2 linked regions of the Homo sapiens genome follow. The protein of the gene in region 2 purifies or fractionates together with the protein of the main gene of each other region. This does not show direct contact. Each region holds a gene or a part of one and is shown on either strand. Other genes may lie near its edges.

Region 1 (2,676 bases), on a different chromosome or scaffold from region 2:
GCATTTTGGGAGGCCAAGGCAGGTGGATCACCTGAGGTCAGGAGGTCCAGACCAGCCTGGCCAACATGGTGAAACCCCGTCCCTACTAAAAATGCAAAAATTAGCCGGGAGTGGTGGCGCCTGTAATCCCAGCTACTCAATTAAAATAAAAAAATAAAATAAAAAAAAAGCTTGAGTTGCTCAGTGGCCTTCCTGCATGTTCTTTTGCATAATGACTTTGGGATGCCTTGATTGCAGCAGGAAGCGATATCCTAGCATAATCAGTTGTGGTAGCTGCCTTTCTCCAACTGTGAGCCTCTGCAGGGAAGGCACCATTTCTCATCCCACACACAACGCTGAACTCAGGGTCAGGTACTCTAAATGTGCTGAATCTTAAGGACAGGCTTTCAGCCGGGCGTAGTGGCTCACGCCTGTAATCCCAGCACTTTGGGAGGCTGAGGTGGGCAGATCATGAGGTCAGGAGATCGAGACCATCCTGGCTAACAAGCTTTCTGGAGTCAGGAGGCTAGGAGACCATCATTCTTATTTTCAAAACATCATATGAGCAGGAAGGTATGAAAGGCCCCATCTGCCATCAGAGCTAATGACGTGCCCTCTGAGGCAGCCAACTCCCAACCACCCAACCAGTTCCCTTTTTCAGGGTCACGCTGATGACTTGAAACTTTTCCGTGTTCAAGCTGCCCTCCCTTGGCATGTGACAGAAAAAAGTAAAAACAGGACTCAATACCATCCCTTCAGAGGAAGGCTTTATTGTAACATAAAATACACAACTTTGTGACTGTAACTCTGCATAGGATATATTTCTTTTTTTTGAGGCAGAGTCAAATTTGAGGCCCCAAATTGTACACAATACTTTTTTTTGGTGGCTAAATAACTAATCTGCCTTGACACTAAAATATGTATCTGAAATAATTTCACCAAGTTTTAAAAAGAAAAATTATAAAAAGTATACTTTCATTTTAAGTTATATTCGATTTTAGTCTCCCCCTACCCCCTAGAAAAAACCTGCACATCTCACACACGGAGCTGAAACTTTTGAGGACTTGTGTGTGTCTGGGAGTGGGTGAGAGGCTGATGGGGTCGAGACACACCACTACCTTTATCTTGTGGTTTGCAGGAACAAGGAGGAGAGAGAAGATAGAACGCAGAGAGCGAGCACACCTTTCATCAAAAATCTCCACTCTCTAGGCACAGCCTCGGTAACACCGAGGACAGCTCACAACTGGACAAGCAGGGAAACCCCAGCTCAGGGAAGCCACACTCATCAGCTCTCTTCCTCCCCAACCCAGTGCCAACTGCAAAGTGAGCCAGGACGGCCTGGCTGCTCTGTCCTCAGCAGGCCCTGGGGTGGGTCCACTCCCAACCTGAAAGTGTATCAAGTCTGACCCCCCAACCAGGGTTGCTGGAACAGAGAGCGAGGTCTCAGAGGCAGGTGCTGGTGAAGCATCTCTGGGAGACGGGCAGGGAGTGACTCTACGAGCCTGGATCCCTGAGCAGGCAGGCTCTCCTTCTCACCCTTCCCCGATGCACCCATCCTCATGGTTGGAATTTTCATCAAATCTTGAGGGGTAGGGAGGGGCTGAGTGGGATGCGGGTAGCCTGCTCCTCAGAGGCAGAGAGACTCTACTGCCTGGCATAGAAAAATAAATCAGTGTATGAAACCAAGCCAAGGCAAACGGCAGCTTTAAAAAAGTCATCTTCCAATAAATAATTTACTATAGAGGAATATTTTTAACGGCAAAACACTGATAAATTCAGAAGTTATTTTTGTAAAAAAAATATGTTTATTTACTCTCATGTATAAAAATAAGGTTTTTGGGGCCATCCTCTCCTGGGGGTGCCCATGCCCTTCTTTTGGAGAGGGGGCCGAGGGGTGACCTTTTAGGCCTTACCCGTAAGCTATTTTAATACACCTGCTCACCCCCCTCTTCCTCCACTACCTGCTGTAGCCCATTCCTTCCTTCTGGTGTAAAGCTACAGAAGAAGTCGTGGAACAAAATTATACCGAGGCTTTTTTTGTTTTGTTTTATACTTTTATCAAACTCCCCAGCAAACTTGCTGACTGCATTTCCACACATTACCAACACCTGCCAGGACTTCACAGCAGGGTGACCCGCTAAGCAAGCTGGCCTAGGTTCAGCCCACACTGCTGCTACCTACTCTTCAAGACATTAGGTGTGAACAGAGAAGGGGAATGAGGTGACCTGGGTTTGAATGACCCAGGGCCCAATGCACAAGAGAGAATTTTGATGTCAAATTAGGGTGGCAAGGAGAAAACAAAAAAGATCCAACTTAGAAACAGAACCATGATTCAACATTTGCAAAAAGCATCATCAATAAGCCTGAAGAAGGCCACGGACTGTGCATCCGCTGGCTCAGAGAAAGGCTGGGCAGCCGGAACAGCAGCTTCCTGGGTAACCAGGCAACAATCTCAGCGCCTGGGAGTCAGGGCTGCGCACTCCACTCTGGCCAGAACACAAACGGCATTGGCACTGTAAGCTCTCAGTTACGTGGCCCTCTTTTCTCTCCTCTATTTCTCCAAACATATGTGCACACCCAGAGGAACTGAGTGGCAATTCCAGGGTGCGGGCGGGCAGGAGGGGAGAGAGGACAAAGAGAGAATAAGATGAGCTAAATGTTTTGTGAAAAGCCACCGCCCATCCGAAAGCTTGTGAC
Region 2 (2,960 bases):
AAGTGCAACGTTTGTACACACACACCTGTGGTGTGTATACGTGTGTGACTGCACGCCTGCTGAGGTGGCTGCTTTAGTCCTTGTCTACATGAGTGCGTTTTGCCCGTGTATCTACACGTGTCCGAGTTTGTGCCGGTGCACGGACGTATCTGCATTTATGTGTACACATGTGATTGTGGCATGACACAGGTGTATCTGTGCTACATAGCATTTGTATGTGACTGGAATTGGGGCACACGTGTATTTATGCATGTGTGATCTGTTGTGCCCGCACAAGTGTGTGTCACCTTCTGGCTAGGCAGGTGGCCACAGTTGCATGGATCATGCATGTGTAATGTGTGTGTGGATGTGGCACTTGGGGGTCCTTGCATACGCCCAGACCAGGGAAGACCAGACAACCCACGCTACATTCCTTTCTAGTGTGTTCTCTGCCTCCTCTTCCCACTCCATAAACAGGACCGATTTCCACCTCTTTCCCAACACCCACCCGGATTCTCGGTCCCTGTGGGGCTACTGCTTGTCCGGGTGTACCCTCTGACCCCTCAATGCCCATTTCTACCTAAGGAGATCCTTTGGGACCATCTGCAAAGACCCACTCTTCTGGGAAGCTTTCCCTGCTCTGCCCCCATCTTCTCCCGAACTCTAGGCGCCTCCCCCGAGCCCAGGTTTTTCCTCCACCCCAAATTCAACCCTACAGGATGAGAGTGTCTGTGTTTAGCTCTGTCCCAAGCTGGGACCCCCGCCCCCTCCCCCACACACACACCCTGACGGCAGGGTCTGAGTCATTTCTGTCCCTGCAACTTTGGGAACATCAGATGCAGGAGGTGCAGCCACCAAACTGACTGAGGGGGCGTGGCTGAATGCGGGGTCCTCGATCCCTCCCACCTCGGCCCGCGGGAAGGGGGCGTCACCTGGGCCCGGAGCGGAGGGCGCCACCCACACATTCTCGCCATTCTCCTTATCGGCTTCCACGTAGCCTGGAACAGAGAGGGCGGCCTGGAGGAAGCGCGGCGGCCAGGGGCGGCCCGGTCCGTCCGAGCGGGGGCGGGAGAGGTGAGCACTGGGCCCCCGAACTCCCCGAAGGGGCACCCACCTAGCACCTTCTCGTAGTCCTCGTCTAACAGGAATGGCACCAGCGCCTTTTTGGTATGCGACACGAAATAGTTGACCACGGCGTCCAGGGAGGTGCAAGAGAACTGGGGGCAGATGGGGGAGCGGTCAGGCTGCTGGAGAAGGGACGCGGACCCCACAAAGTCACTTCTAGGGACTCTGGCCCAACGCTCACCGGCTGTTCCACATCGATCACGTACTTGGGGCCCTCCCGCTTCACCTTGTAATGCCGGACCACGTGCGTCCTGCACCAGGAGAAAGCGAGTGAGTGGCTCAGCCCAGGCTCCCACACCGCCCCTCAGGGAAGGCCCCGCCCCAACTCCAGGCTCCGCCTCCAATAGAAACAGGTCCATACTGGCTCCGCCCCCACAGAAGGCCCCGCCACTGACTGGTTCCACCCCATAAAGGACCTAAGCCCCGTTGACCTCCCGGAGCACTGACTGCCCGATCCCAGCACTGCTCCCAGCGGGGACCAGGCCCGACCGACCCACCCCCACAGAAGACCCCACCTCTAGTCTTGGCACCACCTCCAGCGAGGGACCAGGCCAGACTGACAACACCCTAGGAAAGGTCCGCCCCTAATTCTGGCACCGCGCCTAGGGAGAACCAGGCCCTAAAGACCCCGCCCCAGGTAGGCCCCGCCCCCTGTAATGGCTCCACCCCCAGGCACCGACTCTACCTTCTACATCGCCTTGCCCAACCCTGGACTGGGCTTGAGAATTTGGCATAAGGCTCTGACTTCGCCCCCAGGGCTGGCTCCGCCTCCATAGCCCTACTCAACTTCCAAAAAGGATCACGGCCATGACTCCCCCCCGTAGATCCTGACGCTGCCCAAAGAGCCCATTCCCATCCCTGGATTTGACTTCATCCCCTCCAGTGGCCCAGACCTGGCCCCTGCGTACCTGACGTTCCGGAGGGGCCGATCCTAACCTAGGAGTCTGACTCCACCTACAGGGAGTCCCAGCTCCTAACCCAAGACCTGGCTCTTCCTGCAAAGGAGTCGGCCTGGGCTCTACCTTCTTCCCTAGGCATTAACCCCATACCTGGGGCAAGGCCAGCCTCAGGATCCCACGACCCCGGAGCTCTGATCCCGCCCCCAGCCCTCCCTGCCCAGCTCTGACTCCGCCCCCATGCTCCCCTGCCTAGCATTGACTCCACCCCTCCCCCAGCCCGCCCACCCCAGCTCTGACTCCGCCCCAACACGCCCAGCGTAGCTCTGATTCCGCCACCAGTGTACTCTGCTCAGCTCTGACTCCACCCGCCCCAGCTCGCCCAGCCCAGCTCTGACTCCTCCCCCAATCCGCCCAGCCCAGCTCTGACTCCTCCCCCAATCCGCCCACCTCAGCTCTGACTCCTCCCCCAATCCGCCCAGCTCAGCTCTGACTCCGTCCCCAGACGCCCGTCTCGGCTCTGGCTCCGTCCCCTGGCCTACCCACTAGCGGGTCGGACTCCGCCCCTGCTTCTGACCACGCCCCCGCGCCCACCCTCTTCCCACCCTCCTCCCACCCAGGGCTCTCCAGACGCGCATGCGCACCCGTTGTGCATCTGCCGCGTGGTGACCGACACGCCGTCGGCGCCGTCCCCGCTGGGCCGCAGCAGCAGGTTCCCGCACTCGGGGTAGCGCTCCAGGAGCAGTTGTGCCTCCAGCCGGCTCACCTTCAGGAAGCACCTGTGGCGGGCCGCGTCACCCACTCGGGACCCCGGAGACCAAGTCCGCTCTTCTGCACGTAAACCCTGCCTCCTCTGAGACCCAGCCCCATCCCCATCCCCTAGGCCCAGGAGACCCTGCCCTGCTCTCCAGACCCAGGCCCCTCCCACGGAGACCCAGTCCGGCCTTCCAGGCTCCTAGT

Evidence for each region.
Region 1: the proteins of STAP2 (region 2) and STAT5B purify together in Homo sapiens (co-immunoprecipitation; one study listed by IntAct). This does not show direct contact.

The regions. Positions count from the first base shown.
Region 1 is NC_000017.11:42,198,448-42,201,123, forward strand, and holds the end of STAT5B (signal transducer and activator of transcription 5B), read right to left. Parts: 3' UTR 730-2,676; downstream 1-729. UniProt on the Homo sapiens protein: Carries out a dual function: signal transduction and activation of transcription. Mediates cellular responses to the cytokine KITLG/SCF and other growth factors. Binds to the GAS element and activates PRL-induced transcription.
Region 2 is NC_000019.10:4,326,031-4,328,990, forward strand, and holds part of STAP2 (signal-transducing adaptor protein 2), read right to left. Parts: intron 2,780-2,960; coding exon 2,645-2,779; intron 1,356-2,644; coding exon 1,286-1,355; intron 1,197-1,285; coding exon 1,094-1,196; intron 978-1,093; coding exon 912-977; intron 1-911. UniProt on the Homo sapiens protein: Substrate of protein kinase PTK6. May play a regulatory role in the acute-phase response in systemic inflammation and may modulate STAT3 activity.